3 separate regions of the Homo sapiens genome follow, and all the other regions are linked to region 1. Evidence: fine-mapped expression QTL. A gene starts in region 1. Each other region holds a variant in brackets. All regions are shown on one strand. Distances are from middle to middle.

Region 1 (9,953 bases):
TTTGATGGAGTCTTGCTTTGTCGCCCAGGCTGGAGTGCAATGACACGATCTCAGCTCACTGCAACCTCCACCTCCCAGATTCAAGCCATTCTTCCGCCTCAGCCTCCAGAGTACCTGGGATACAGGCATGTGCCACCACACCCAGCTAATTTTTGTATCTTTAGTAGAGACAGCGTTTCACCATGTTGGCCAGGCTGGTCTCGAACTCCTGACCTCAAGTGATCTGCCCGCCTCGGCCTCCCAAAGTGCTGGGATTACAGGTGTGAGCCATATCTCCTGGCCTCCTTTTTTTTGAGACATGGTCTCACTCTGACACCCACGCTGGAGTGTGATCTCAGCTCACTGTAGCCTCAACCTCCATGGCTCAGGTGATTCTCCCACCTCAGCCTCCTGAGTAGCTGAGATTACAGGCGCGTGCCGCCATGCCCAGCTACTTTTTATATTTTTCTTGTAGAGATGGGGTCTCACCATGTTGCCCAAGTTGGTTTCGAACTCCTGGACTCCAGCAATCTGTCTGTCTTGGCTTCCCAAAGTGCTGGCGTTACAGGTGTGAGCCACCGCACCTGGCCATCCCGGCATTTTTCTATTCTGCTGTGAGGCTACTGTGCATGTCTGTGCATGTCACAATCCCCATTTTCTCATTGGTTTGCTTGACTAGCCTTCAGTGAACACCCACTGCGCTGGGCACTAGCAGATATTACCAAATGCCTGCCTCCCCGGGAGTAGCTTGGGGTCGCAGAGAAAAACCTTTAAACCAGCTGCACCACACACTCTCCCTCCCTCTGAGCTCCAGGGTGTCCATAGGGGAGGCTCATCTACTAAGCACTCAGCAATGAACTGCACATCTGGCTGGCACTTTAGAGTTTACAAAATACTTTCCCATCTGTCATTTCATCTCTGCCTTGGAACAGTTCTTGGTCAGTCAGGCAGCATTATCACAAACTACAGATGGGGACACTGAGGCACAGAGGAGCTGCATGACCTTCCCACAGCCACACAAAGCCACGTCTAGAACGCAGAGCTAGACGTCTAACGTCTCCCTCGGCATGTTCTGTCTTCCACGCTCTCACTCATGTGGAGGGCTGTGGGCATACAGGCTGCTTCTGCCAGTTTTCTAGAGCGGTCTTGGGAGGCCAACTTGACCATCTGTGCCTCAGTTTCCTGATGTGCCAAACAAATAATCTGGTACTATCTCTAGGGGCTGCAGAAAGTACCCTGCAAGGAAGTGGTCAGGGAACTCCCAGTCTCCGTCCCCGTCTCCATTGAGGCTTCCTTAGCACATTTCATACTCCAAGGAACCCTAACCATGGGGTAACAGAAACCCCGAAGTTCTGAGCTGATGGACACGACACACAGACTTGGTGTTCTCTGCACTGGACAGAGCTGATTTTCATTTTCCAAGGAGGGTAACCAAGGCACAGAGGTGTGTCTAGCCTGCTTCTGAGGGTGCAGGGACAGGAATGAGGATAACTCGTAGAAGGGCTGGCCACCTCACTCCAGCAACTTCAAGCCTCCACCCGCTAATCCACAAGCACCAACACTAAATACCTTCCCTTTGGACCAATAAGCACAAAGGAAGGGCCAAGACTCATGACCGTGCCCCTCAGAAGTGGCACTGAAAGGCGCAAGCCTCATTTCTCCCAGGCCAAGGGGAGGACTGAGAGGTCAGTGATTTGTTTAAAATGCAACATCACAGCATACTCATACTTTCAACAGGAAGCACATCCGGAGAGAAAAAGAGAGAGAGAGAACTCCCTAATGAGGAGACCGCATCCCCCCACCCCACCCCCGAGGTTACAGGGGAGCCTGCGTCATCCCAAAGCCTGCCTGGGCTGGGTTCCAGGAGGCCAGGACATAGAGAGGGGGGCCTGGCTAGGGGTCCAGCAGCAACCCAAGTCCCTTCTATCTACCAATATCCTTCTCCCAGGAAGCAGGGGAGAGGATGTGAACCCCGCCTGGGTTTTCCCACACCCAGCTGGTGACCCAGCTGACCCGGGACACTGAGGCACAAAAGAACCGCATGACTCCTGCAGAAACTGGAGCTAAAAATACCCTCCAGTGCCCAGCCTGGCCTGCGAGAGGAGCCCCCTGGCCTGCCTCCCGGCAACCTGCTGCTTCCTTCCCCATCTGGGATGGCCCTGGGGCAAATCATGCCCCTGGAGCCACATTCTGACTTCAGATCCCCAAATCCTGGGGTCTTTCCTCCTCTTGGTCCCATGGGCTGGCCCCAGGGGCTCCAGCTGGAGCTAGGAACACTTACCCAGGTAGATATCTCCGAAGGACCCGCTCCCGATCTTCCGTCCCAGGCGGTACTTGTTCCCCACACGTAGCTCCATGGCTCACTCTTGCTGCAGAGGAAGCAGGAACATGAGGGTCAGCGACGTGGGGAGCCGGGAAAGGGGTCCAGTCCACCAAGGCCAGGCAGAGCCACCAGGAACTCGAAAACCTGCATTCTCGAAGACCACATTCTGCAGGTGTCAGGTGGCCCACAGCCTGCACTCCACACACCTGGGGAACAGCTAAGGCAGGCTGAGGACAGGTTTCAGTGTGGCCAGAGAGGAAGCAGCCAAGCAAGCATGTCTTTGGGGGATGCTCATTCAGGGGCCCCTCAAAAGAAGCTTCTCAAGGGATCACAACGGGCATCAGCCCTCTTACACCTCCTACCCCCCAGGCTCCCACAGCCTGGCCTGGTCTTCCCAAGTACTGCCCCTGCCCAGAGGCCAGACCTCGCCAGTGCCCAGCACGCCTTGCAGGAGAAAGTCGCATCCCCTACTGGGGGGAAGGCAGAAAAGAATGCCCTCGACCATCCACCTTCCAGCCACCTCCCCATCTCTACGTCATGACACCAAGACCTCACACGGAGGCCCATAGCCGCTTGGATAAACTGTTTGGAGCTGGCGTCCTTTAAGACTAGGAGGGTCTCCTAAGAGGGCCCTCATAGAACAACAAAGGGGACTGAGCCAGGGTTTTAGCCGCCTGCCCCGGATGGGTGGGAGGAGGAGTTCTGATGTGAGCAGCTTCTCTCCTTCCTCAGGGCCAGGGGGGAGCCCTCTGCTCTGGCCTGGGGCAGAGGAGGGACCCCTCTGCTCTGGCCTGGGGCAAAAGTCCGGACACCCTGTTCCTGGTCAGCAGAGGAGGAAACTGAAGGCCTGGAGGCAGTGCTGCCGTGGGGACAGGGACCAGGGACTGCAGTAAACAGGGGGAGGGGTGTTTACAAGAGGACCAGCATCAAGGACTAGCAAGAGGGAACTCCTTTCACAGACAGGGTACTCAGGCTCACAGAGGCCATGCCACCTGTCCCACACCACCCTGCAGATGGTACAGCCTCGCCGAGGACAGGGCTCCGGCTGTCCCACCTGGTGGTCTCCCACACTCACAAACAGGGCAAAACAGGAAGACTGCAGAGCAGCTGTGCTGGCACAGAAGATCAGCCCCTTGCCCGTGCCAAGTGCTGCCCCCAACAACCAGGCCAGCCTGGGAGGGAGATGGATTCCAGGGACAGTGGGCAGATCCCAGGAGAGACAGGGAACCCCGGCACCTGGCTCCCAAGGAGCTCACCAGCCCTCCACCAATAACCACGAGGCAGGGACCTCCACCAGAGCTGGCCAAACTCTGGGCTCTCAATCAAGGGCCGCTGCCCATATGCTTGGCCTGTCTCAGCTGAGGTGCCACGCTGCCAGGGGAACACAGTCCACGTTTGCAGGAAACCCACACGCCACACATCCCACGTACACACACGTCCAGCTTCCCGAGTGTGTACACTCCAACGGAAGAAAGAAAAGCAGGCACACACAGTGAGCCCTGTTGGGGGGTAAGGGGGGGTGTGCACGCAACCCCCCCCCAACACCTCAGTCCACTTTCTGCCAACACCAATTCAGAGACCACACATGGCAGCCAGGAAACCCGCAGGTTAGGAAAGGAACATAAATATACCCGCATCCTATATTACATAAATACCCACGCCGGGTTATATAAATACCCGTGCCCTCTGTCTGGGTGTCTTACATAAATATACTGCACATGACCCCCCAGTCTCTCCCCACTCACCGGCTGTCTGCAGAGAACGAGAGCGGGAAGGGGCAAGCCCTTCAGGACCCCCTGACTGCTATGTGCCAGCCACCCAGACCCCCAGTCGCTCCCCAACACCCCAGGGGTCCAAGGTCCCTGGGGGAGCCTAGACTGTCCCGGCACCAATACCCAAAAAGCCTCCCAGAGGAGAGCAGAAAAGCTTCATTCAGGAATGGAGAGGCTTTTCAGTTCTTTTGCTGCTTCTCCCATGGGGGAGGGGGGGAGATAAACAAAGTGGGGGGAAAAGTGGATATAAAGGTTCAAGAGTTTCAGCAGGTTAAAAAAATTAGACAAACTACCAACCAGCATGGCACACGGGCAGTGCTTCTTACTCCCCGAACACCATCGCCTACCCCTGAGCCGGGGCCCTTGTCCCTCGGACGATTAAAATAAAAATTGAAGGGACATCATAGAAACGAAGGCAAAGGAGACCCAAACACAGGCATTGCTTGGAAGCAACTTGAGACACTTGTGTCCCCTTCTCCTCTCTCCAAATCCTTCTCCAGGAAGGAGGCTATGCCAGGAAGAAAATATGCAAGAAAACTAAGGGAAAAGTTGGGGAGGGGGCTCACCCCACTTCGAGTTAGGGTATTAACAAGAGCTTGGGAATCCTCTAACGACACCCAGACACTGTTTTGCGTTCCTTAGAGACTTGCAAGACATCAATCTCTCACACAAAAATGGGAGAATCCGATCCGACAAATAACCCCCACCCCTTTCTTTCTCTCCACAAAGAAAAACAAATCAGTGGCCTGGTGACCACACACCTCTTCACCTTAGGACCCCCAAACGCCCGTCATCCAACGAGCGGGCGCAGCCTTGCGAACCCCCAGGTCCGGGCGCCGGGGCCGGGAGAGCAGGGGGCGCCGGTGATTGTCCGATGAAACGCTACGCGGGCCCGAATCAACAGTATCCGGCGCCCAGCACCCCAAGCCCCCTCCCTCAGCGTCCCCAAATCACAGCCGGGGTGGCCGCCTGGCCGGCCGGGGCCTCGGAGGGCCCAGCGGGGGGAAGCGGAGGCAGGCCGGCCGGGGGGCCTCCCCCGCGAGCCTGCAAAATAACAGGCCCCCTCCTCCTCGTCCCCAGCCGCGCCTTTGTCCTCGCCGGGCCGAGCGGGCGGCGCCCGGGCTGCCCCCCCTACACCCCAGCGCGAACGCGCGTGTGTCTGCCCTCCCTTCCCTCCCTCTCCAGCAAAAACAAAGAGGCTGAGGGAGCCCGATTCCCCCCAGGTTTGCACCCTTCCGCGGGCCCGCGGCCCCCCGATATTTACCCCGCCGGGAAGGCGCCGATGCCGGGCCACTGCTCGGGGGGCTGCCGCGGGCGGGGGCGGCCCGCCGGGGCGGATGCCGGAGGATTCGCGGAGCCGCCCGGCGCGCCAGCCTCTCCCGGCCCAGCCGCCGCCGCCGCCGCCGCCGCCGCGCTCCGCTCGGCCCCGGCCGGGCTCTGGCTCTGGGCTCTCGCCGCCGCCGCCGCCGCCGCCGCCGCCTCCCTCCTCCCGGCCTCCTGCCCGCCCGCCCGCCCCCGCCGCCGGCTCGCGCGCTCTCGCACCGCGCGCGCCCGCCGGCTCCCATTGAGCCCCGGGCCCGCCCGCTGATGTCATCCCCGGCCCGCCGCCGCCGCCCCGGAGGATTTAAAGGGCCCGCGCCCTCCGCGCTGGGGGCCGCAGCTGCGAGACGCAGTTCCCCAGCCTCAGTGCAGGCGCGCGGGCTTACGCGTGGGGGTGGGGGAGCACACAGATACTGACACCCTAATGCAGTCCAGGGCACAGGTGGAAAAGACGGGGTGCGGGGGGGACAGAGGGAAGAGGAGGGCGCACAAAAAGCGGAGGTGAGGGGATGGGAGGGGAGGGTCTAGACCCAAAGTCTCCTCTCCCCGCCTGCCAGGATCTCTCTCCTCTCCAGGCAGAGCACTGGGCCCCTGCGAAAACAGGCGGCTATTCACGACACTGCAAAAGATGTTAGACTGCTGGAGGCTCAGTCCGCCTCCAGGTTCCGAGTGCCGCAGAGAACACAGGCCAGGTTGATTCAGGGCAAGAGATTTGAGGAGACAGCTAGGGATGTCGACACAAGGCCCAGAAAGGTAGCCTGGGCTCATACATTCTCCTCCCGTGGAAAAACGAAGGGCAAAGACCTCTTCTTCTTTTCCCTGAAGCTCAAACTGTGATGGGCACAGAGAGGACCCCTCAGATCCCAACCTCATTCTCCCCTGTTGAAGGAGGGGTGCCACAAGTACCAAAGCACCGACACTTGAGTCTGGGCTCCGAGTGGTGCACGTTTAGCCAAGCCACCTCCCAGCTCTGAGCTTGGGTTTCCTTAAACAGCAAATGGGAGGAAGGACCCTGTCCTCCCCAGGTCACAGAATTAATAAAAGCTTCTACCGGCATGCAGAGCCGCGATGAAAGGTTGCAGAACAAAGTCATTAAAGTGATGATATTTACACTGAGCCATGCAAAGCTTCCAATTATGACACACCTATATTCACACAGTTGTGACTGTGGACACGCAAAATGCCTGAGGCCCTGCGTCCAATCCCGGAAGCACAGTTCCTGGGAGGAGTCACTTCTATAATAGCCGTATCTTCCCTCCTCGAGGCTGAGGGACTGAGTCACACACGTGTCCAAACGGGCAGGAGCCCCACAGACTAAGTCCTTTCGCCGGCCAGGAAACTGGCCCAGAGAGGGGAAGGGCTTTGCCCAGGACCACAAAGCCCAACAGGACAGCTCTGTTCTCCCAGCGATCACCAGGAAACTGGGTCTATCTAGAGCCCATTTCCAAGAGCAGGAGAGTGAGAAGCCTCCTCCCAGGAGGGCCTGCCTTCAGTGACACCTTTGCCAGAGCAGGGGGTCACCAGCCAGGTGGTGGGCTTTACTTGGCCTGCGCGGTGCTTTCTGTTGTTGTTTTGTTAATTAATCCCCAAAGTTTTTTTTTTTTTTTTTGCTTTTTGTTTTTGTTGGTTTTGAGATAGAGTCTCGCTGTGTGGCTCAGGCTGGAGTGCAGTGGCTCAATATCGGCTCACTGCAACCTCTGCCTCCTGGGTTCAAGTGATTCTCCAGCCTCAGCCTCCCTCCTGAATAGCTGGAATTACAGATGTGCACCACCACACCTGGCTAATTTTTGCCCAGGACCACACAGTATTTTTAGTAGAGACGGGGTTGGCCAGGCTGGGCTGGAACTCCTGACCTCAAGTGATCCGCCTGCCTCGGCCTCCCAAACTGCTGGGATTATAGGCGTGAGCCACCATGCCTGGCCACTCCCCAAAGTTTTAAAACTGGAAGATTTCATATTTCAGATCCAGATTCCCTGTTTCTCTGGGGGCATTAGGAGATCCGGTAACTCTGGGCCCAAGTTCTCAGCCGGCCTGAGCGCCACCCCACCGCCACCCATTTTGTTTCTTTCCTCACATGAGCCCAGGCAGAGAGGCCTGGGCACAATTGAGCAGGGGGTGAAGTCTGCCCCTGTGTCCTCCAGTCCTTACCACCCCTAACCTTCCAACCTGGGCCCTGCTTCCCAAAGCCCTCCTCTTCTTCAGCACTTTCAAGGCAACCAGCCCTGGGAGAGGAGGTTATTTGTTATCTCATTTAATCCTCTCAAACAACAACAGATTACACTGTATTCTTTCAGAGAAGGAATCAGGCTCCTCCCAGTGCTTGCCTAAGGGCACAGATCAACCTCTCCCTTAAACTGGGCCTGGCTGGAACAGACCCCCTGCCCCTTCCTAACCCAGCCAGATCGCCAGGTCTGACTGCAGCACGTTCACGTTCTCCCCTCTGCATTCAGGACTTGTAACCACACCTCCCACCCCAGCACCCCCACCCCACCCCCTGCCCCAGTTAAGATCCTGCTCAGTTCCCTGGGCCAGCCAGGCTGAGGAGCCCGGCTCATCCCCAGGCCTGCTAGGGAGCCTCCCTGCCTTGCCATTGGAAGGACATGCTGTTGTCCACTGCCTGAGTTGTGGGCCCAAGTCCTTGTCCTTCCTATCCCTGGAAGACCTGTGTGTGGGCCCTTCCAAAGAGCTTTGCAGTGAAGCTATAAGGGAAGGCAAACCATGACACAAAACCCAGCTGAGGAGGGGAGACTGGTCCAAAGTGAAAAACAAAACCTTACGTGTTCCAGCAGCCCCACAGCCTGACTTCTCTCTCCGACTTGGTTCACAGTGATTCCTCTCAGATTTAACTCCTAACTTTAAAACCCAACGGTGGGGCCGGGCACGCCCCTGTAATCCCAGCACTTCAGAGGCCAAGGCGGGTGATCACCTGAGGTCAGGAGTTCAAGACCAGCCTGGCCAACACGGTGAAACCCCGTTTCTACTAAAAATACAAAAAATTAGCTGGGCACGATGGCGGGCACCTGTAATCCCAGCCACTCGGGAGGCTGAGGCAGGAGAATCACTTGAACCCAGGAGGCGGAGGTTGCAGTGAGCCGAGATCGTACCATTGCACTCTAGCTTGGGCGACAGAGCGAGACTCCGTCTCAAAAAAATAAATAAAAAACAAAACAAAACAAAAAACCCAAGGGTGTGGCAAAGTTCCCCTAGCTACCTTCTCTGCAAGCCAACAAGAAGATGAAATCAGGCTAGAATAGGTGTGGGGTGAATTGCCAGCTCCCAAGGGGCCCACCCTGGGTTTCAGCTGCTCTGCATTGGTTCAGGAATAGTGGCTCTCACAACACCTTTCCAAACTGGCTTTTGTCTTTTTTTTAGAGGCTCATTCTGTCACCCAGGCTGGAGTGCAGTGGCAGGATCATACCTCGCTGTAGCCTCAAATTCCTGGGCTCAAGCGATCCTCCTGCCTCAGCCTTCCAAGTAGCTGGGACTACAGGCATGCACCACCACACCCAGCTAATTTTTAAATTTTTTATAGAGATGGGGTCTTACTGTGTTGCCCAGACTGGTCTGAAACTCCTGGGCTCAAGTGACCCTTCTGCCTCGCCCTCCCAAAGTGCTGTGATTACAAGTGTGAGCCACTGTGTTCCCAAACTGACATTTTTTACCTGCTCCCTATTTCAGACCCTTCAAGATCACTTGGCACGCAGGAGCACTGGGCTGGGATCCCAAGGACAGCCCTGGAATTCCCAGATAATGACGATATGGCTGCAGATAAACCCAGAAAGATTTCAGTACCTGCCCCAGGAATCTCAGTCTTGACTAAGGACTCATAGATTTACTAAACATCAAGGGCTGGCCTGAAAACGGCCCTCCAGGATCTGTCCTCCACTCCCCGCACCTGGCTCTCCTGACCTCAGCTCCTGTAAGTTTTCTTCTTGCTCACAGCCCTGTAGCCTCACTGGCCTCCCATGGAATGAACCTCTGGCCTCAGGGCCTTGGCAGGGGCTGTTTCCACTGCCTGGTGCGCTCTTCCCGCAGAGCACCAACCCCCCTCACCTCTCACCTTTCTCAAGTCCCCTTCAGAGGTAGGCCCTCCTGGTCTCCCAGTTTATTTATTTATTTATTTTTTGAGACAGAGTCTGGCTCTGTCTCCCAGGCTGGAATGCAGTGGCCCGATCTCGGCTCACTGCAACCTCCGCCTCCCGGGTTCAAGCAATTCTCCTGCCTCAGCCTCCAGAGTAGCTGGGATTACAGGCGTCCACCACCATACCTGGCTAATTTTTGTATTTTTAGTAGAGATGGAGGTGTCACCATGTTACCCAGGCTGGTCTTAAACTCCTGACCTCAGGTGATCCGTCCGCCTCAGCCTCCCAAAAAGCTGGGATTACAGGTGTGAGCCACCACGTCTGGGCCCAGTCTCCCAATTTAAAATCCTGGCGCTGGGCCACAGGCGGTGCCTCACACCTGTAATCCCAGAACTTTGGGAGGCAGAGGCAGGCGTTGCTTGAGCTCAGGAGTTTGAGACCAGCCTGGATAACATGGCGAAATGCTCTCTCTACAAA
Region 2 (9,953 bases), 47 kb after region 1:
GTTTTATACCTTCAGGTTGTTACTTATTGCTCATTAATGTCCTTATCTTTCTGATTGAAATACTCCCTTTAGCATTTCTTCTAGGACAGGTCTGGTGTTGACAAAATCCCTCAGCTTTTGTGTGGAAAAGTGTTTATTTCCCCTTCACTTTGAAGGATATTTTCACTGGATACACTGTTCTAGGGTAAATGTTTTTTTCCTTCAGCACTTTCAATATGTCATGCCACTCTCTCCTGGCCTGAAACGTTTCTACTAAAGAGTCTGCTGCCAGATATATTGTAGCTCCATTGTATATTATTGGTTTCTTTTCTCTTGCTGCTTTTAAGATCCTTTCTTTATCCTTGATCTTTGGGACTGTGATTATTAAATCCCTTGAGGTAGTCTTCTTTGAGTTACATCTGCTCGGTGTTTTATAACTTTCTTGTACTTGGATATTGATATCTTTCTGTAGGTTTGGGACGTTCCGTTACTATCCCTTTGAATACACTTTCTACACTCCCCACCTCCTCTTTAAGGCCAATACCACTTAGATTTGTCCTTTTGAGGCTATTTTCTAGATCCTGTAGGCATGCGTCATTGTTTTTTATTCTTTCCTTTGTCTCCTCTATGTATTTTGAAATAGCCTGTCTTCAAGCTCATTAATTCTTTCTTCTGGTTTATCAATTCTGCTATTAAAAGACTCTAATGCATTCTTTGGCATGCCAATTACATTTTTTGGCTCCAGAATTTCTGCTTGATTCTTTTAAATTATTTCCATCTCTTTGTTAAACTTATCTAATAGAATTATGAATTCCTTCCCTGTGTTATCTTGAATTTCTTTGAGTTTCCTCAACACAGCTATTTTGATTTCTTTGTCTGAAAGGTCACATATCTCTGTTTCTACAGGATTGGCCCCTGGTGTCTTATTTAGTTCATTTGGTGAGGTCATGTTTTCCTGGATAGTGTTGATGCTAGCAGATGTTCTTTGGTGTCTGGGCATTGAAGAGTTAGGTATTGATTGTAGTTTTCACTGTATTTATTGTAGTTTTCACTGTCAGGGCTTGTTTGTACCCATCTTTCTTGGGAAGGCTTTCCAGATACTTGAAAGAACTTGGATACTGTGATCTAATCTCTATCTGCTTTAGGGGGCACCCCAAGCCTCCTAAACTCTGGTTCTTGCAGACTCATAGCGGTACTGCCTTAATGGTCTTGGACAAGATCCAGGATAATTCTCTGCATTACCAAAAAGAGACTCTTGTTTTCTTCCCTTACTTTCTCCCAAACAAACAGAGTCTCTCTCTCTGTTCTGAGGCACCTAAAGCTTGGGGTTGAGTGACATAAGCACCTCTGTGGCCACCACTACTGTGACTGCATTGGGTCAGACCTGAGGCCAGCACAGCACGGGGTCTTGCCCAAGACCTGCTGTAACCACTCCTTAGCTATTGCATGAGTTTGCTGAAGGCCCTGGGGCTCTACAGTCATCACATGGTAAAAACAGCCAGGCCTGTGTCCTTCCCTTCAGGATGGCAAGTTCTCCTAGCCTCCAGGTGGATCCAAAGGTGCTGTCTGGGAATCAGGGCCTAGATCAAAAACTGTAAAAGTCTACGTAGTGTTTTATTGTGCTATGGCTGAGCTGTCACTCAAACCACAAGATGCAGTCCCTCCCACTATTTCCACCCCTGTCCAAAGACAGAGGAGCATCAATCCAGGGCCACCTCAAACACAGGCCATGGGGAGGTACTGCCAGACTACCACCAATGTTCTCATAAGGCCCAAAGGCTCTTAAGTCAGTTTGCAGTGAATGCTCCTGTTAATTATTTTTAAATGCTTTTTTTTTTTTTTCTTTTGAGACGGAGTCTCACCCTGTCACCCAGGCTAGAGTGCAATGGCATGATCTCGGCTCAATGCAACTTCTGCCTCCCAGGTTCAAATGATTCTCCTGCCTCAGCCTCCCAAGCAGCTGGGATTACAGGCAACCACCACCACACCCAGCTAATTTTTGTATTTTTAGTAGAGACGGGGTTTCACCATGTTGGCCAGGATTGTCTCGAACTCCTGACCTTGGGATCCTCCCACCTCAGCCTCCCAAAGTGGTTCTTATTATAAAAATAATCAAACTTACCCTTCTACAAATACTCGAAGAAGAACATCCATGAGAAAAAATAAGGCAATAGCTAGAGAAATAGAACGATACTCCAAAGGAATATAAAGTTTGCTGTCAGTGAAAATTAGGTCGGCAAGGACGAGAGTGACATCCAGTAAGACGAGGAAAACTCCAAATAGTCTAAAATAAATAAATAAATAAATAAATAAATAAATAAATAAATAAATAAATAAATGCAAAGATAAAGGGGCATTTGTCCCTATAGCTATACTATATTTAAGCCACTGATCAGGTACCAAAATGTTATTATTTAGTATTAAGCTGCCCAGTGGCAGGAAAAACTGTAATGCCTTAGAATCTCAGAAAAATCACTGTTTTCACCCAATAGAAGCAGTTCTTAATAAACAAAATTCTCACCAAACCACTTCAGAAGATATTATCATGGCCTTTTATAGTAGACACATCAGACCAACACCTCAAGAGAGAAAAAGTAAAACTGAATTAAAATCACCTGTGTCTGTTTACAAACTCTTCTTAAAATGTGAGAATTTCATAAGAAGTTTATACCAACTTCTCATAAAAAATAAACCCTCATTAATCTGGATAATTCTAAAGAATTTATTAATAAAAACCAAATGAAAGCATGAGTAACATAAGCTCTTAAAAGACCAAGATTTTTCATCAGTGACATTTTCAACAAGTCCATGATTTCATCTTTATGGGTGCTTCGAGCAGAGTGATGGGCACATGAGTCTTGAACTCTAAAGTACCTCCTGCCACTTGCTGTTACATATTCCAAATACATTCTCCATAAATTGATTCGACTATTTGCCTAATCTATGAAGGTGAATTAGTCTTTGAAGTACTTTTTTAAAAACTTGCAGCTCAAATTCAAATATTATTAATTCAAAAGGAAACAATTATATTGCATAAATCTATATCATATAGTATGAAATCTTACTCTTATGTAGTCTAAATAAATAGTTTCCAGAATTAAAGAGTAATTCCAGATGTATAAGGTACTAATAAAACACTTTACTAATAATTACAGAATTTTAACATTTGATTTTCATTAATGTTACTTTTGCAGATGGAAGAAAAACAATATGTTACTATTAATCTTAGGCAAAAGCCATTTATTTGCAATTCTTAATGTCCAGCTTAAACCAAAATTCCATGATAAATTAGATTACATTAGATGGGGCACATGGCTACTTAGCAACTGATGGACAGTGGAAATGCTTTTTTGTTATTTTATTTCAGTGTTTCTCATTGAAGTATTAAGTCTCATATATATATATATGTATGTATAGATATATATGAGACTCATTTTTTTTTTTTTTTTACATGGAGTCTTGCTGTGTCACCAAGGCTGAGGTGCAATGGTGCAATTTCAGCTCACTGCAACCTATGCCTCCTCGGTTCAAGCGATTCTTCTGCCTCAGCCTCCTGAGTAGCTGGGATTACAGGCACCCACCATTATGCTTGGCTAATTTTTGTATTTTTAGTAGAGATGGGGTTTCACCATGTTAGCCAGGCTGGTCTTGAACTCCTGACTTCATGTGATCCGCCCGCCTCGGCCTCCCAGAGTGCTGGGATTACAGGCGTGAGCCACCACACCCAGCCAAGTCTCAGATATATTTAATACATGGTGTTTTCTGTGTCTCACATACCCAAATGCAAAGGATGATACAATTGAATGCACAATTTTCTTAATCTTACTGCTGCAAAAAGAAGTAAAAATAAAATTAATCAGATTTCTTCTAACATATATTGTAAATTTAACCAAAAAACAAAGGCCCTTATAAATATAAT[T/C]TTAAAAGAAAATTATTCAGAAGTTGTATAACAAAATGCTTTTTACTAATAGCTAAAATGTTATTCTTCCTGCTCCATGAGTATTTTACTTGTTTACTATGCTATCCAGAAGACAGTAAACTTTGGATGTTTAGTAACATTTCCATTGCATGCAAAGCCCCAACCCCAACTTTATGGCAATACTAAACTTAAACTTGTGGTCATCATCTCAAGGAGTATAGCATGAAGACAGAAAAGGGTGGTAGAAGAGAACTGTATTTTAATGCCAGCCTGGGCAAATCATCAAACTTTGGCCAGATCTCAGTTTCCACTGCAATAAAATAAGGTTTCAGGAATGAGCATAGGGAGTAAATGATGCTCTTGTCATCCCCTCAAACTAGACACCTAGTGAGCAGATATACATTAGCAAGAGTCGCATATGAGGTTGCAAATGAACTTCAGAGGTAAGACATTTTAGTAAGATATACTTCAAAGGAGAAACACCCGAAAGACTGGGCTCCTTCCATTAATCAAAGGAAGGAGAACCTGTTTGATGGAGCCTCCAATAATGCCTCATTTTACCTTATGGCTGGAGACAAGGTAGCTCATGAGGAACAATTTTTTTTGTCCTACTGAAGCCTCCTGTGTTGGAAGCTCTTCAGGAGGAGAAGCCTCCAACACAGGAGGCTTCAGTAGGAGAAGTCTTCAGGAAGTTTCTGTCATACTGAAGCCTCCAACACAGGACTCAAATTCCACCCCAAGAGCCATGAATCCTAAGACAATGCTCACAGCCTGTGCCTAAGACTGGAGAACAAAGAGGGCAGATACTGAGCAGAACTGGGGCACTGACAATTGGCCTTTGACATGAACAGACATTTCTCAAAAGAAGACATGCATGTGGCCAACAAGCATATGAAGAAAAGCTCAATATCACAGATTAGAGAAATGCAAATCAAAACCACAATGAGATACCATTTCACACCAGTCAGAATGGCTATTACTAAAAAGTCAAAAAATAACAGATGCGGGCAAGGTTGCAGAGAAAAGGGAACACTTACACATTGTTGGTGGGAGTGTAAATTAGTTCAACCACTGTAAAAAGCACTATGGCAATACCTTGAAGAGCTAAAAGCAGAACTATTTGACTGAGCAATCCCATTACTGAGTAGATACCCAGAGGAATACAAATCATTCTACTATAAAGATACATGCATATGAATGTTCACTGCAGCACTATTTACAATAGCAAAGACATGGAATCAACCTAGGTACCCATCAATGACAGATTGGATAAAGAAAATGTGGTACATATATACCATGGAATACTATGCAGCCATAAAAAAAGAATGAGATCATGTATTTTGTGGGAACATCGATGGAGCTGGAGGCTCTTATCCTTAGCAAACTAGTGCAGAAAGAGAAAACCAAATACTGAATGTTCTCACCTATCAGTGGTAGCTAAATCATAAGGACTGATGAACACAAAGAAGGAAATAGACACTGGGGTCTACTTGAGTGGGGAGGGCAGGAGGAGAGAGAGGAGCAGAAAAGATAACTATTTGGGTACTGAGCTTAATACCTGGATGATGAAATAATATGTAAAAAAAAAAAAAAAACACCTCCCTGACACAAGTTTACCTATGTAACAAACCTCACGTGTACCTCCAAACCTAAAATAAAAGTTAAAAAAAACAAAATTGGCCTTTGATGAATGATGTTAGGTTAACCTGAGATAAAGGAAATCCCCAATCCTTCTAATCTTCCCCTCTCCACCTGGACCCACCACCTCCACCCAGGCTTGGAGAGTTAAGGCTGATATAGATGGAGGATCAATTGGCCAAAAGAGGTGAATTCTCTCCTCAAGTTGCCATTCCCTTACTACAAGAACCTCTGATCCCACACAGTCTACTAGATCTCTGGGTATCAAGGAAATGTCATAAATCTGAACTCACTTGACAATGTCACCATACAGAACCAAGTCTGACAGATTACGAAGGCATGAAGAAGTGGCTTGGGTGGCTTTAGCCCCTTAATCTGTTTGAGTGTCCCCTGAAACTATACCAAGTAAATACACAATTGAGACTTTTTTGGTTAAAAAGGTATACTATGTAAATGCAGCTTCAAGCAGTTATGTGCAGAGTTTGCAGGGAAATAACTATGACTCAGTAAATCCATACCCAGGAAAAGTACGGTTCACACTCGGGAACAACAGACAGATACTCCAACATGAAGCAACACGAAGCATAGCCTCCATGTACCTTTCCTAAAAACAATTACTCAAAGTGCTTGAGTCAGCTGAGCAATGAATCAAAATGAAGAACACAGAAATAAGGAAGATGACTTACAGAGAAAAGATGATAAATAATATAAACTCAAAATTAGGTAAGTCTAAATAATAATTGTTAATGTAGCATAAAAATGTAGCAGGTGAACAAAAGCAATGGCAACAAAAGCCAGAATTGACAAATGGGATCTAATTAAACTAAAGAGCTTCTGCACAGCAAAAGAAACTACCATCAGAGTGAACAGGCAAACTACAGAATGGGAGAAAATTTTTGCAATCTACTCATCTGACAAAGGGCTAATATCCAGAATCTACAAAGATCTCAAACAAATTTACAAGAAAAAAACAAACAACCCCATAAAAAGGTGGGCAAAGGATATGAACAGACACTTCTCAAAAGAAGACATTTATGCAGCCCACAGACACATGAAAAAATGCTCATCATCACTGGCCATCAGAGGAATGCAAATCAAAACCACCATGACATACCATCTCACGACAGTTAGAATGGTGATCATTAAAAAGTCAAGAAACAACAGGTGCTGGAGAGGATGTGGAGAAACTGAACACTTTTACACTGTTGGTGGGACTGTAAACTACTTCAACCATTGTGGAAGACAGTGTGGCGATTCCTCAAGGATCTAAAACTAGAAATACCATTTGACCCAGCCATCCCATTACTGGGTATATACTCAAAGGATTATAAATCATGCTGCTATAAAGACACATGCACACGTATGTTTATTGCAGCACTATTCACAATAGCAAAGACTTGGAACCAACCCAAATGTCCAACAATGATAGATTGGATTAAGAAAATGTGGCACATATACACCATGGAATAATAAGCAGCCATAAAAAAGGATGAGTTCATGTCCTTTGTAGGGATATGGATGAAGCTGGAAACCATCATTCTCAGCAAACTATCGCAAGGTCAGAAAACCAAACACTGCATGTTCTCACTCACAGGTGGGAATTGAACAATGAGAACCCTTGGACACAGGAAGGGGAACATCACACACCAGGGCCTGTCATGGGGTGGGGGGATGGGGGAGGGATAGCATTAGGAGATACGCCTAATGTAAATGACGAATTAATGGGTACAGCACACCAACATGGCACATGCACGAATATGTAACAAACCTGCACATTGTGCACATGTACCCTAGAACTTACAGTATAATAATAAAAGAAAAGTAGCAGGTGAAAATGTAAATAAATGATTCTGAAAGTAAAGATAATATAAAATCATGAATAATAGTATTGATTTGAATTTTTAGGCATTCTTACACTAGGATTCAAGGTGTGGAAGAAGATAGAAGTAAAGGCAGGTTGCATTTCTTATCTTTCACAGGTACAAGTCCAGTTTTATTCTCGATATTGATGGATAAAATGGTATAATTATGTTTTCTAAACATTTAAATATAAACATTGATAGACTAGAAATGGGCTTCTGACTTGCATATCAACAAAAAATGCAAGGGATAAAAACAAATCAATTAATTGCAAAATATAGACAAATTTACAAAGAAAATATCAAAGTATTTTTAATAAAGAAAAAGATGATAAATAAAACCAAACGTACCAGAAATCATAAATACAAACATATTACTCTCATACTGCATATTGAGAAATACTCTCAGATAACTTTGAAATTAAAGGCATTACATGCTATACACGAGAGACAAAAACTAAATTTAAATGACAATTCAAAAATAAAGAGATAGAGGCCAGGCACGGTGGCTCACGCCTGTAATCCCAGCACTTTGGGTGGCCAAGGTGGGTGGATCATGAGGTCAAGAGATCGAGACTATCCTGGCCAACATGGTGAAACTCCATCTCTACTAAAAATACAAAAAATTAGCTGGGCGTGGTGGTGCGTGCCTGTAGTCCCAGCTACTCACGAGGCTGAGGCAGGAGAATCACTTGAACCTGGGAAGCGGAGGTTGCAGTGAGCTGAGTGGCGCCACTGCACTCCAGCCTGGTGACAGAGCGAGACTCCGGCTCAAAAAAAAAAAAAGAGAGAGAAAAAAAGATATGAGATACTAAACCTTAAAACACTTAAAAGTTCCAATATTAATATCAAAGTTGAATTAAAAGCAAAAATATTAACTATGAACATGACTCATTTTTTATCAATAGAAGGTGGAAGCTACATGACACTAACAAGACCATGTTTAATGAAATGGGATTTGTATTGAAGGCAGGTGCTATCTCTCCCACTGGACACATTTTTCTCTTGTGCAGACTCTGGGGGTAGGGAGGTGGCCATGATGAAAAGCACGAAAAACACTGTAGTGACTCTGGTCTTCCTGCTCCCTCTAGATCACTAAAACAGGGTAAGGACAATACAGGGGGATGACATGTTCATGCTGAAAAAACTATGAGTCACTTAGGAGAAAAGTAAATTTCTACACTTTATACCTTAAGACAAAGTAAATTCAGGGCAGATATTTTATTTAAATGAAGAAAATAAATTCAAAACAGAAATTTTGGTGAATATGTTTAAAATCTTGGGGTAAGAAGGACTTTCTGAGAATAACATTAAAGGCAAAATCACAAAGAAAAGTACAGATACATTTGATTACATGAGGATGAAATGCTTTTATATAGTGAAAAGCAAGACAACCTGGGAGAAATTGCTTATATTACATAAAATAGAAAAAGGATCAATAGATTTAACTTTTCAGTCCAAAGACAGAAAAGGATAAATGAAGGTGTGTCAAAGAACGTGCATTAGAACAAATATATTTACTAATATCAGAGAAATCAATGATGGCTAGTGTTAAGTGTGGGAGGGGAGAAATGTACACTTTGCATCTTGATGTTAAAGCACATATCAGTATCAATAGCGTCACAATCATTCCCTTTGACACAGAATTTCCACTTCTGAGAATTTATAACAAGCAAATAACCAACAATATACAGAGATTTAGCCTCAAATATATTCATTTTTGTAACAGTTAAAAACTTGTAAAAAACTTAATTGTTCAGCAATATCTGACTATTAAATAAATTATATATAGCACATCTACACCATGAAATATCACACAACTGTTACAAATAATGTTGTAAGTGCACATGAATATATATTAACAAAAAAAATGATGTCATTAATAAGGTTATTTACAAAAGAATAAGTATGGTCTCATATCTGTAAACAAAAAAAGTATATGCTTGAAGAACTTAGAAGTGCATGCATCAAAGCTTAAGAATGACTATATGTGGGTAGATTTGTTGATTGTATTTTCTGATTTTCCTTTAATGACCTCTTACGTTATTTTCAGTTTTTAGAATAAAACCTATTTACAGATCTACAGAGTTTTCGAAGTATTTTTGCATGTTATTTTCGTTTTATTACTAATTTTTTACAATACAATATCCAGTACATAGATTGCATTATAGCCAGTTTACATTTGAATAATCTGAAAGTTAAAGAGGGTTAGTGACTTGCTGAGTATCAGGTGAATGAATATATGATATGCCAAAGCCAAGCACTGATTCCAGCTTTTACTATAAATCCAGTATCATCCCCCTGGTATGAAACACCAGCATTTCTCACAGGGACTATTGCAAATTCCTCCTATATCTACGTAATGAGACTTTGTAATTTAAAAATAAAATAAAATGAAAACCTGCTTTATTTTGTTTGGAGTCAGGAAAGAAGGAAATGCTTGCCTTGCTTAATCTAATTTTGTTTCAGCCCTGGGCAGCTCCATTACAGAAAACGTATAGCTAATCTGCAGACACACAGTTTAATTCAGTGGCAAATTCAGGGTAATTTGAAGAACT
Region 3 (9,953 bases), 24 kb before region 1:
CCTGGCGTGGTGGCGCATGCCTGTAATCCCAGCTACTCGGGAGGCTGAGACAGGAGAATCACTTGAATCTGGGAGGCGGAGGTTGCAGTGAGCCAAGATCGTGCCATTGCACTCCAGTCCGGGCAATAAGAGCGAAACTCCATCTCAAAAAATAAATAAAATAATATAAGGAACATAATACGTTAACCTCGCAGTCTTTTTGGGAGCAAAGGGTTGGAAATGGCCTGGCACAGGTGAACCCTCAATGAGCTTAGCCCTTGTGTTCATCTGAGGTCTCACTGAATTCTGGCAACCCTCAGAAACAAGCATCATCAGCCGGGCGCGGTGGCTCCTGCCTGTAATCCCAGCACTTCGGGAGGCCGAGGAGGGTGGATCACGACGTCAGGAGATTGAGACCATCCTGGCTAACACGGTGAAACCCCATCTCTACTAAAAATACCAAAAATTAGCCGGGCGTGGTTGGGGGTGCCTGTAGTCCCAGCTACTCGGGAGGCTGAGGCAGGAGAATGGCGTGAAACCAGGAGGCAGAGCTTGCAGTGAGCCGAGATCGCGCCACTGCACTCCAGCCTGGGCGACAGTGCGAGACTCCGTCTCAAAAAAAAAAAAAAAGAAAGAAACAGGCATCATCACCTCCACATTACAGAGGAGGAAACTGAGATGTGCCCGAAGCCCCCAGGATGCCAATCCTGTGCTCCCAACCCTCCACGCCTGCACCACCTCCAGCCTAGTAGCTGGCACCCTGGTGCCCACACAAAAGCCCAGTTAGCAAGTGTTTTTTGTGGCATGAATGAAAATGACTCACCAGGTGCCTGTTTGCCCCCTCTGGTAGGGGCAAAATTTCCTTGTGATTATTTGGTGTACTTAAACTGTATGGTTGACGCATTAATGTCACTTCCTTAGAGGCTGTCAGTCACTGCCCACTCCCAAACATTAGCTCTCTAAGAAAGGAATGCAGGAAGAAGCATGATGGGTAGAAATGGGGCAGAGCAGCAGGGGCGGGAGGGATTCTCAGATTATAGCTTTTTAGACAGCTTGACTTTCGTGTATGTAAACACCTTCATATCCAAAAAATAAACCAAAAAAGAGGAGGGGGAGAAGCATTAGCTTATTATTAAAATTGATTAAATAGGGTGGGCACAATGGCTCATGCCTGTAAATCCAGCACTTTCGGAGACTGAGGTGGGAGGATTGCTTGAGCCCAGGAGTTCAAGACCAGCCTGGGCAACACAGTGAGATCTAATCTCTACAAAAAATACAAAAGTTAGCCAGGCATGGTGGCACGCACCTGTGGTCCCAGCTGTTAGGGAGGCTGAGGCAGGAGGATCCCTTGAGCCTGGGAAGTTGAGGCTGCAGTGAGCCATGACTTCACCACTGCAGTCCAGCCTGGGTGACAGAGCAAGATCCTGTCTCAAAAACAAAACAAAACAAAAAAAAAAACAAAACTATACTTTTCACTGTAAAAGACAAAGACCAGCTCCTTATTATTTTCTCTCAGGGCCTCTAGTTGGTAACTTCCACTCGCTGTCTGGTGTCAGGTTGTCCATCCCAGAAGGTCCTAAAGTCCAGGGAGGCAGGGGAACTCTCTGCTGCATTCCCCCAGCACCTCATTCAACCAAGTGCGGGTGAACAAAATGGCTCTTCGCAGGCTGACCAATTGACCACTGACTCCTGGCTGCCACCCAGCCCCAAGGCCCAGGCTCTGCTTAGCACCTGCCATTCCAGGGCCTACTGGCATTTCCTGGCTTTGGTAACACACCTGATACCTGATGCCTGTAAAGGGGACCCACCTTTACTTGGGCCTCACACAGCAGGAAACCCTCCACCAGGCCGTGAGCCTGTGGGTCACTGGGTCTTGACGGCCAGCACTGGAAGGCGCCTTGACCTATGTCCAGGATTTCAAAACGCCCGAGGGGAACCTCCCAGGGCCCTCCATCCGCTTCCCAGGCAGACCTATCAGCCAGACAGCTTCCGTCTTGCCTCTGGGTTGAGACTGTGGCAATAATGGCTCTTCGGTTGACGAAAGGAAGTAAACTGTGTTGGGTAAATGCAGATGGACAGATTCTTTTCCAAGCTGGTGAGACCAAGGCAGGCGAGGCTGAGCGCTGCCCTTTTATCAAGGCTTGACTGAAGGACCTCATCCAGAGTCACTATCAGAGCTCGCTCCAGCACTCTCCTTCATGGAGCCCCAGGGTCAGCAGTGGAGAGGGTCAGAGCACCCCCACAACCCCCACAGCGAGATGACCTCGGCTCGTCTTGCCTCTGCCACCAGAGCTGTGACTGTGGGCAAGATATTTTACAGCAGGACCAGTTTCTTGTCCGAAGGCAGGGCTATTAACAGGACCTAACTCAGGATACTTGTGTGGATAAAATCATGTGTGAAGAGCTTTTAGGGCCTTGCTTCTCAAAGAGGGGCCCCAGGCCATCAGCACACCTGGAGTGTGCAGGGGGAAGCTCTCAGCCCCACCCCAGCCCTCTTTACAAGACCCCCGCGTGGCACCTGTGGCGTGGCACCTGTGTGCACTCGTGTTTTCAAAGCCCCCGGACATCCCAACCACAGCCCAAGTGTTCTGAAAGTGGCCCCAGCCACACCTGCCTTCAGGGCGAGGGCTTGTTCCTCACTGACTCCTGCTGCTCCCAGCAAGACCCACTTCCGGGTCTGCAGGGAGAGGCCCTAAGGGCACAGAGGTGGACAAAGGGCTGCCTGCATCACTTTATCTTTTCTACTTTATTACTTCAAATTAACAACCACGATAAAGCTCAAAAAAGTCCAATATTTACACAGGAAAAAAGTACAAAATTCCCCCCAAAGTTCTTCAGTTTTTTTTTTTTCAGTTTTTTAAATTACAAAGTAATAAAAAGCTTTGCTCTTTAATTAAAAAAAAAAAGGAAAAAGGGGAAACAGAGGTAAATAAATTAGGAAAACACACACACGGAGAAAACAAACAAAAATAAAATAAAATAAAAACAAAAAGGTGTTAACTAGGAAGGATGGGTTAATCCAAAACCCAGCCCTGACTCCAGGCTCCTCCTCAGAAAGGTGGAACCAGGGAGAGGGGGGACCCCAGGTGACTGTCAGGACCAGGGAAGTAATTTATAACTCAGAGCCAGATGCCTTCTGGAAGCAGTCTCCATGGATTCTGCCCTAAAACCAGGAATGGAAGATGGAGCTGCCACCGGCTGATGACGGGCTAGGGGGGGACCGGTGGCAGCGAGGACCCTCTGAGCTCTGAGGGATGCGGAGGTCACCGCCCACCCCCATGTCCTTGTTAGTAGACACAGGAGAACGGGAATTCGGGCTGGCAGGCGGGGCGGGCCGTGGCACCTGCTGTCTTGGGAAACACAGGTCAATACATCCACACACACACACACACACACACACGCAGGGGACGCCGGCCCCCACCACCTCCCCACCCACTCCATGGAGAGGCAGAGGAGGAGCCTGGAGGCCAGGGGGACAATGGAAAAGCCCAGCACGGGAAGTCAGCCACTGTCATCTCAGAGTGGGTGGGGCTGTGCGTATCTCCTGGATTCTGAGGCTCGGAAAACTCGGTGGGAACTGCCTTCAACTGACTACACCACTCCCTGATGATGCTTGAGGGCCGGCTTTGGCTCTGGGACCTGTCACTTCTCCGACACGGACCCGACCCGTTCCTCTCCAGGCAGGTGGTGGGTGGGGGCAGGAACAGGAGGCCGGGCAGGCCCTGGCGTCTGGCTCCTGTAGCCTGGTGTTGTCAGGGGAGCATCTGGCAGCCTGAAGGTTGGGGGCAGCGGGCACCACAAGGGGGCAAGAATCCTCAGTGCTGAGGGCATCTCATCTTCTTGCCATTGGCAAAGAAATCAAAGAAACAAACTCCATCGTCGGTTTTGTGCTGGGTTTTTTTGTTGTTCTTTTGAGTGGTTTATTTTTGCCTTTTTTTTTTTTTTTTTTTTTTTAAAGAAAATACAGTGAAGACACTAGAAGGGAGAAGGGAAAAGACAGGTGAGGTACACAGCTGTCTCTGGCTACTTTTTTTTTTTTTTGAGATGGAGTCTCGCTCTGTCCCCCAGGCTGGAGTGCAGTGGCACGATCTCGGCTCACTGCAACCTCCACCTCCCAGATTCAAGCAATTCTCCTGTCTCAGCGTCCCGAGTAGCTGAGATTACAGGTGTGTGCCACCACACCCGGCTAATTTTTGTGTTTTTAGTAGAGATGGGTTTTCACCATGTTGGCCAGGCTGGTCTCGAACTCCTGACCTCAAGTGACCCACCTGTCTGGGCCTCCCGAAGTGCTGGGATTACAGGTGCGAGCCACTGCACTTGGCCCCCCAAACTCCTGTCTTCTCGTCCCTTGGTCTATCTCCCTCTGGGCCCCAGAGCCTGGCTCAAGGCCCAGCACGCTAGGAGATCCATCTTCATGTGACAGAAACGGATTCTCTCCCTTCTCTGCCCTCCTGGTGAGCATCTCCCCACCCCACCCCCAAATATCTGCCCAGCCCGCCATGGACAGCTTGGTTCCTGGGCCTGAGATCCGAGGAAGGCCAGCCCTGTTCATGCCTCCACTCTCTTGTGTGGATGAATTTCTACAAAACAGACCACACACAGATTGTCCCAGTGTAAAGTTGAGTCCCCCGACGTGTCGGACTACTGCCTACAAATGGACACACGTTCCCCAGAGAGCTCAGATTATACCCTCGAGAAGCCCAAAGAACCCCTGCCGCCTCCCCTTCCCCAAGCCAGGCCCCAGAGTGGGGCGTTTCCATACCCCGCCTCAAGGCCTGGTACAGTCCGGGAAGAACCAGCAGGCTCACGCTGGCCAGAGGGCCTCTCTCAGTCCTACTACAGAGGCATAAAAAGGGCTCCTTTGCTTCCTCCACAGCCCTGTTGTGAGTCTTGTGCAGGAATTAACTTGCGTAACAGCCCAGAGGCTGAGACAGGGCTAATGCCGTGGGAGAGGTCAGAGTGTGAGCCCATGGCCCCGTCTCTGCTGGGAACCAACCTTCCAAAATATGTTAAGGCAGAAGGAGATAGAGACCTGGCCGAGGGCAGAAAAAGTTTTTCCAGCAGAAACTAATCCATGAGGGGTCAGGCCTGAGCATAGAAACCCTTGGCCCCAAGTCAGGCAGCCTCCGAGGTTTTAAACTACTTGAGGCCCCTTAGAGTTCTGGGGCGCCTGGTACCATCTGCCACTGCCACTGCCACCCACCCCTCCACAACACATTGGTCTCTTTCTGGGGCCCTGGGAGCTTCTAGGTCGGCTGGGCTGGCTGCATCTGCAGCAGTCATGGACTCACCTAAGCAAACACTGGTCCAATGGGGGCTCTCCTCACTTCCCGAGATGGTCAAATGGCACACTTGTCTTTTGAGGGTGGGGAGGGAGAGAGGGGGAGGGAGAGAGAGGGAGGTACAAGCTTCAAGTCAAGTCCCTTAGCCGCTGGCGATAGAGATTTGGCAAGTCTCTCCCCACTGAGGAGGTGTACCCCCACCCCCACCTCCAGGCAGCCCCTCAAGCTGAGGGAAGGCCTGTGTGATTCCAGTGACTCTAAGATGTCCCTGTCTGTAGCTAAGAATGTTGCCCAGGGAGGCAAACCTGCTACCTAAGTAGATGGCCAATGAGGGTTCTCTCGCAGGACTCCCTCCTCGCCCACAGGCAGGAGGACGAGGGCAGGGCTCCCACCCACCTCT[G/C]CCAGGCCACCTGCCCTGGGCAACTACAGATTCCCCCTTCCCAAGTGTCCCCATCCAAACATAGCCCCAAAGAGGATGGGACCTCACTGCCCCTACACCCCATGCTCTTGCCAATGCTCACAGGGGCTCCTGGGGGCTCCCTGATGTCAGGGAGCAGCAACACCTCATCTCTGAGCCCCTGCTGCCCACCCTGGCTGGGCCCCTGGCAGCGAGGACTGGAGCCCAGCTGTGCCACTTGCCAGGGAATGTTACTGCCCTGAGCCTTGGTGAATGACTTTGCTCAAGAGGGCTCATCAGACCTCAGAGGATTAAATGAGGCCAAGTCCTGGCTCTACAGAAGGGGTTCACTCCAAGGCAAGCAGCGTCGATGGAAAGGGAAGAACAGAGCCACGGCCTGACCTCCCACTGGGGGGTCTCTAACTCAGTTCTGAGGCCCAGAGGGACTGGCAGGGGGGCAGCTCACCTGTGAGGCTGGGATCCGGGAGACCTCTTGCCGCCCAGTGAGGTCTGAGGAGGAGACGTTGGCGGGCGCACCCCTGTGCAGCCTCATACTCACCTTCCTCTCCCGGTCGACCCGCGAGATCGCTCTGGGAGAAGTATTGCCTGGAGGGAGAGTGGGAAGCCACCCTCAGAGTAGGCACAAACAGAGCCCCCCACCCACCCTGAACCCAGCCCACTGCCTGAGTCCCTGCTCACCAGCCGGCTGGATGCGGGAGGCTGGCGTGGAAGCCACGGGCTCGGCGGCACTGCGGAGCCGGTTGGCAGTGGCCCCCGTGGGTGGGCCAGGGGGCAGGGCTCGGGTCGCGGACCCCCGTAGCTGCCCCATCCTCTCCTCGCGTTCGTGTTCTCGCCGCTCCCGGTCCACATCCTCGGGATTCCGGGCTGCACCCTGCAGGGATGCAAGAAAAGACACCAGTCAGCCCCAGAGGCCAGGGTGCTCTGGGCCCAGCAGCCCTGCAGGGCACAGAAGGGGAGGGAGGCCAGGTGGATATCTCAGAAACCTTCTGCTCCAGCCTCCCTGACAAGCGCGGGAAGCCAAGACCCACAATCACACAGCACAGAGACACGAAGCCACACAACCACCAGAGGAAGGAGAAAGCAGGAGTCTGGGGGCAGAGGGAGGTCAGTCTGCCCTGCTCTCCTGGGATGGAGCCAGAGAAAGGACAACTAATGCGCCCAGGATGATCAAGAGCACCTCTTGGCCCTCCTGACCTGGGGCTGGGCCTGCCCTGGCCCCCCTCTGTGTACCAAGAGCCCTTAACTACTCAAGGTTGCTAAACCGAGCAGGAAAGCTGTTTAGAGGCCTCTAGCAGACTGGCTAGGGGTGTCCAGAGGGGGAAAAGAACAGGCCCAGAGTCACAAAACTAGTGGAAGGCTGGGCTAGGACTCAGACCAGCTCTCCCGGTACCTAGCCAGGGGCTCTTCTCATCAGGGAGCTGTCCTTCCCCCTGCCGGGACCTGGCAATGGCTTCTGGCAGGTGCAGTGGAGGCCACAGCCAGGAGGCCCAGGGAACCCACAGACACCGCCTGCCTTGGGACAGAAGCTCAAGGGGAGCTGGAGAAGAAAATGGGGCCACGTTCCCCACGGAGGAAGAAGAGGCCCAGCAGGCAAAGCTGGAGCAGAAGGGGTACCCTAAGCCCCCAGGTGCCCTGCTGTCCAGCCACTGCCGCCCCTGGTGCAGGAGGAAGTGAGAAGGGGCCAGAGAAGAGCATATGTGGGGGCAGCGCCCGACTGCGTTACCTAGTTCATCCTGGGGCCGTCCACAGGGAAGGGCAGGGGGCTGGCAGGAAGGGGGCCGCATCTGTGGAGGAGAGAGCTCTGGGCTGAGTTGGGGGCCTGCTCATGGGCACAGGGTGTGGTTCCTGCAACCCATGTCTCTCCCAGGAGACTGGCCAAGAGGTGGGGGTGGGCCCTGTCTTTAAGCAACTCCAGGAAGTAGTGGCTAGGACCAGAATGATCCCTGAATCTTAGTGAGGCACCAAGGCCCAGAGAGGCCTTGTGACCTGCCCGGGGTTGCACAGCTCAGGGCAGAGCTAGGGTCTGAACCCAGGCCTCTGCCACCTAGTCCCACTCTGCTCTCTGCACCCCAAGAGGTCACTGTTCAGAGTCTTGCCTTAGAACACTCTAGAAGATGCATCTTCCCATCCTCCCACCCAGAAGCCTCTCAGGCAGGCCTGGGACCACCGGGGCTCTAACTCCTGACCTCCGGTCCTCACCCTGGGCTCCCACTCGGTTGCAGGCTGGCCAACAGTGACTCAGCCAGAGCCACAGCAAAGCCTGGGGAGGAACACGAGCTGTGGCACCTCCGTGCCGAACCTTCTGCGGGCAGAGTCACATCAACCCTGTGAGGCAGGTCAATCTCATTTCCATGCTTGGGATACAGAGGCTGAGTGACTCACTCCAAGGTGTGGAGCCCTGCAGCCAGCAGCCAAGCAGAGGGCTGGAGCCCCTGCCCTTTGTGAGCCCAGCAGGCTCAGGCCATTGCCAGCCCCGAGGCAAGAAGTGGGCGACTCTCCATGGTCCCATCCAACCCATAGGACGCAAGAAACACACAGCAGGGAGCTCTCTTGGCCTTTATTGCCCATAGAAAACATAAAAGGTCAGCAAAGTCACACGAGCATCCACCCGTCATCATATGGACCTCTGTCCTTGGCTGTGTTGAATTCCTTCCCGGCCAGCTGACTGGACCTCGGAACACAGTGGCTGTATGTGCTGAGAGTGGCTTCCAGGCCCCAGGGATCCACAGATCCCAGCACCCCGGTGCAGCCAACAACACAGGGTGTCCTGTCTACTGTTGGGTAGCATGGGAAGGGCCTGGCCTCAGGGTGAAGGTTCCCATTGCATGTTTTCCAGGTGCTTCTGCCAGGGGACTGCTGGAGGTGGTTCAGCTCACTACAGTGGCCGTGGCATTGAGTCAGAGATTGGCAAAGGATAAGGCTGTGGGTGCCTCTGCCCAGCTTCTAACTCCAGGGCCTGCCTCAAGAGGGACTTCCAGGAAGGCGGTCAGACCAGCAGCAGTGGGTGGAGAGGTGCTCCTGGCCTGGTTGGAAAAGAGATCTTGCTGGCTAGACAGTCTTGTGAGACTCCATAAGGGAGGAACCTAGAGCAGTGATGTCCACAGAACGTTCTGGATGAAGGAAATGGTCCCATCTGCCTTGCCGGATGTGGTGGCCACTGGAGGGCAGTGGCATGATCTCAGCTCACTCCAATCTCTGCCTCCTGGGTTCAAGCGATTCTCCTGCCTCAGCCTCCCAAGCAGCTGGGATTACAGGAACACACCACCATGCCCAGCTAATTTTTGTGTTTTTAGTAGAAATGGGTTTCACCATGTTGGCCAGGCTGGTCTTAAACTCCTGACCTCAAGTCATCCGCCCTCTATGGCCTCCCAAAGTGCTGGGATTACAGGCATGAGCCACCAGGCCTGGCCGACATTTCCAGTCTTGATTAATTTTAATTCATTAAAAATGTGTCGCATGTGGCCAATGGCTACCATCTTGGACAGTGTCCGTCTAGAGAATACAAAATCCATTCTTGCAGTTGTGCTGAGCTGGAGGGCCAAGCCCATCACGAACCAGACGTGGGAGTGACTATCTCGATAAGAAAGTGCCCAGTGCCCAATGCCCTGTGGTGGAAAGAGCTGGTCCCAGGTGCTCAAGGCCATGGGCCCCATTTGGAGCCAGAAGGTCTAGGGTGAAGTCAGAGAAGACGTCCCCTGCCCATATCCCATTTCCAGCCTTGCTGAAAAGGGCAACAGAGGCCTCTCCCTGAGGTCCCTAGCCTGCGAGACCCCCATTCTCTGCCTGACCTCTGTGTTACTCCTTAGTGAACAAGAAACCCAGAGAGAAGAGAAGCCCAAGACCAATGTGCCGACCTTGGCTTCCAGGAGAACAGAGCCTTGGTCCTAACCATCTAGCAGGGTGGCTGAGGGCCCTGCCATGAAAGAGGCACACCAGGATGAAGCAAGAGGAGGTGTTTAATGAGTTCTGGTTCAACACAGAGGCCGCCAACGGGGTCTAGCTATGAGTCTGTCCTGGGACCCGTTCCCACCAGGCCCCTTGTGGGCAGTGGCCACCATCCCTCCCTCAGGCTGTCCTGGCCCTCAAGGACCCCATGGCAGGGCCTTTTCCACCATGGCCTCCACTGTGCTGCCATCTCTTGGGAACAGGGGGTCATCCCATCCTCCCAAGAAACACTTCCTCAGGCCTGGCCCCGATGGGCTCAGGCACACCTGGCGACATCAGAAATGGGGCCCTGGAGTCCAGACCACAGGCCAGTAGTTTTGGGGGGACAG

Direction of the effects. Alleles are on the strand shown, and positions count from the first base shown. SD is a standard deviation of normalised expression in the study named. Not every link is listed here.
As copies of C replace G in region 3, the expression in tibial nerve of the gene that starts at base 5,612 in region 1 goes down (moderate effect, 0.51 SD a copy in GTEx).

Evidence for each region. PIP is the estimated chance that this variant, and not a neighbour inherited with it, causes the effect.
Region 2: its variant is fine-mapped to the expression of CSNK1E in whole blood (INTERVAL, PIP 0.96).
Region 3: its variant is fine-mapped to the expression of CSNK1E in tibial nerve (GTEx, PIP 0.98).

Annotation. Positions count from the first base shown.
Region 1 is chr22:38,311,822-38,321,774 of GRCh38, forward strand. It overlaps CSNK1E (casein kinase 1 epsilon), which reads right to left and starts at 5,612. Exons shown (of 11, transcript NM_152221.3): 1 at 5,339-5,612; 2 at 2,261-2,348. The coding sequence starts at 2,336. It overlaps TPTEP2-CSNK1E (TPTEP2-CSNK1E readthrough), which reads right to left. Exons shown (of 15, transcript NM_001289912.2): 6 at 2,261-2,348. The coding sequence starts at 2,336. RefSeq lists enhancers at 2,881-2,940, 3,011-3,180, 3,201-3,250, 7,052-7,956 and a silencer at 4,940-5,329.
Region 2 is chr22:38,359,298-38,369,250 of GRCh38, forward strand. It overlaps TPTEP2-CSNK1E (TPTEP2-CSNK1E readthrough), which reads right to left. Exons shown (of 15, transcript NM_001289912.2): 4 at 2,102-2,263. It also overlaps the pseudogene TPTEP2. Among named protein-coding and RNA genes, the nearest start is that of TPTEP2-CSNK1E, 35 kb to the right of the region's middle. The variant T/C (reference allele first, on the strand shown) is at 3,899.
Region 3 is chr22:38,287,985-38,297,937 of GRCh38, forward strand. It overlaps TPTEP2-CSNK1E (TPTEP2-CSNK1E readthrough), which reads right to left. Exons shown (of 15, transcript NM_001289912.2): 12 at 6,358-6,550; 13 at 6,125-6,264; 14 at 5,271-5,335; 15 at 2,707-3,954. The coding sequence ends at 5,303. It overlaps CSNK1E (casein kinase 1 epsilon), which reads right to left. Exons shown (of 11, transcript NM_152221.3): 8 at 6,358-6,550; 9 at 6,125-6,264; 10 at 5,271-5,335; 11 at 2,707-3,954. The coding sequence ends at 5,303. Among named protein-coding and RNA genes, the nearest start is that of TMEM184B, 20 kb to the left of the region's middle. RefSeq lists enhancers at 1,271-1,980, 1,981-2,688. The variant G/C (reference allele first, on the strand shown) is at 5,662.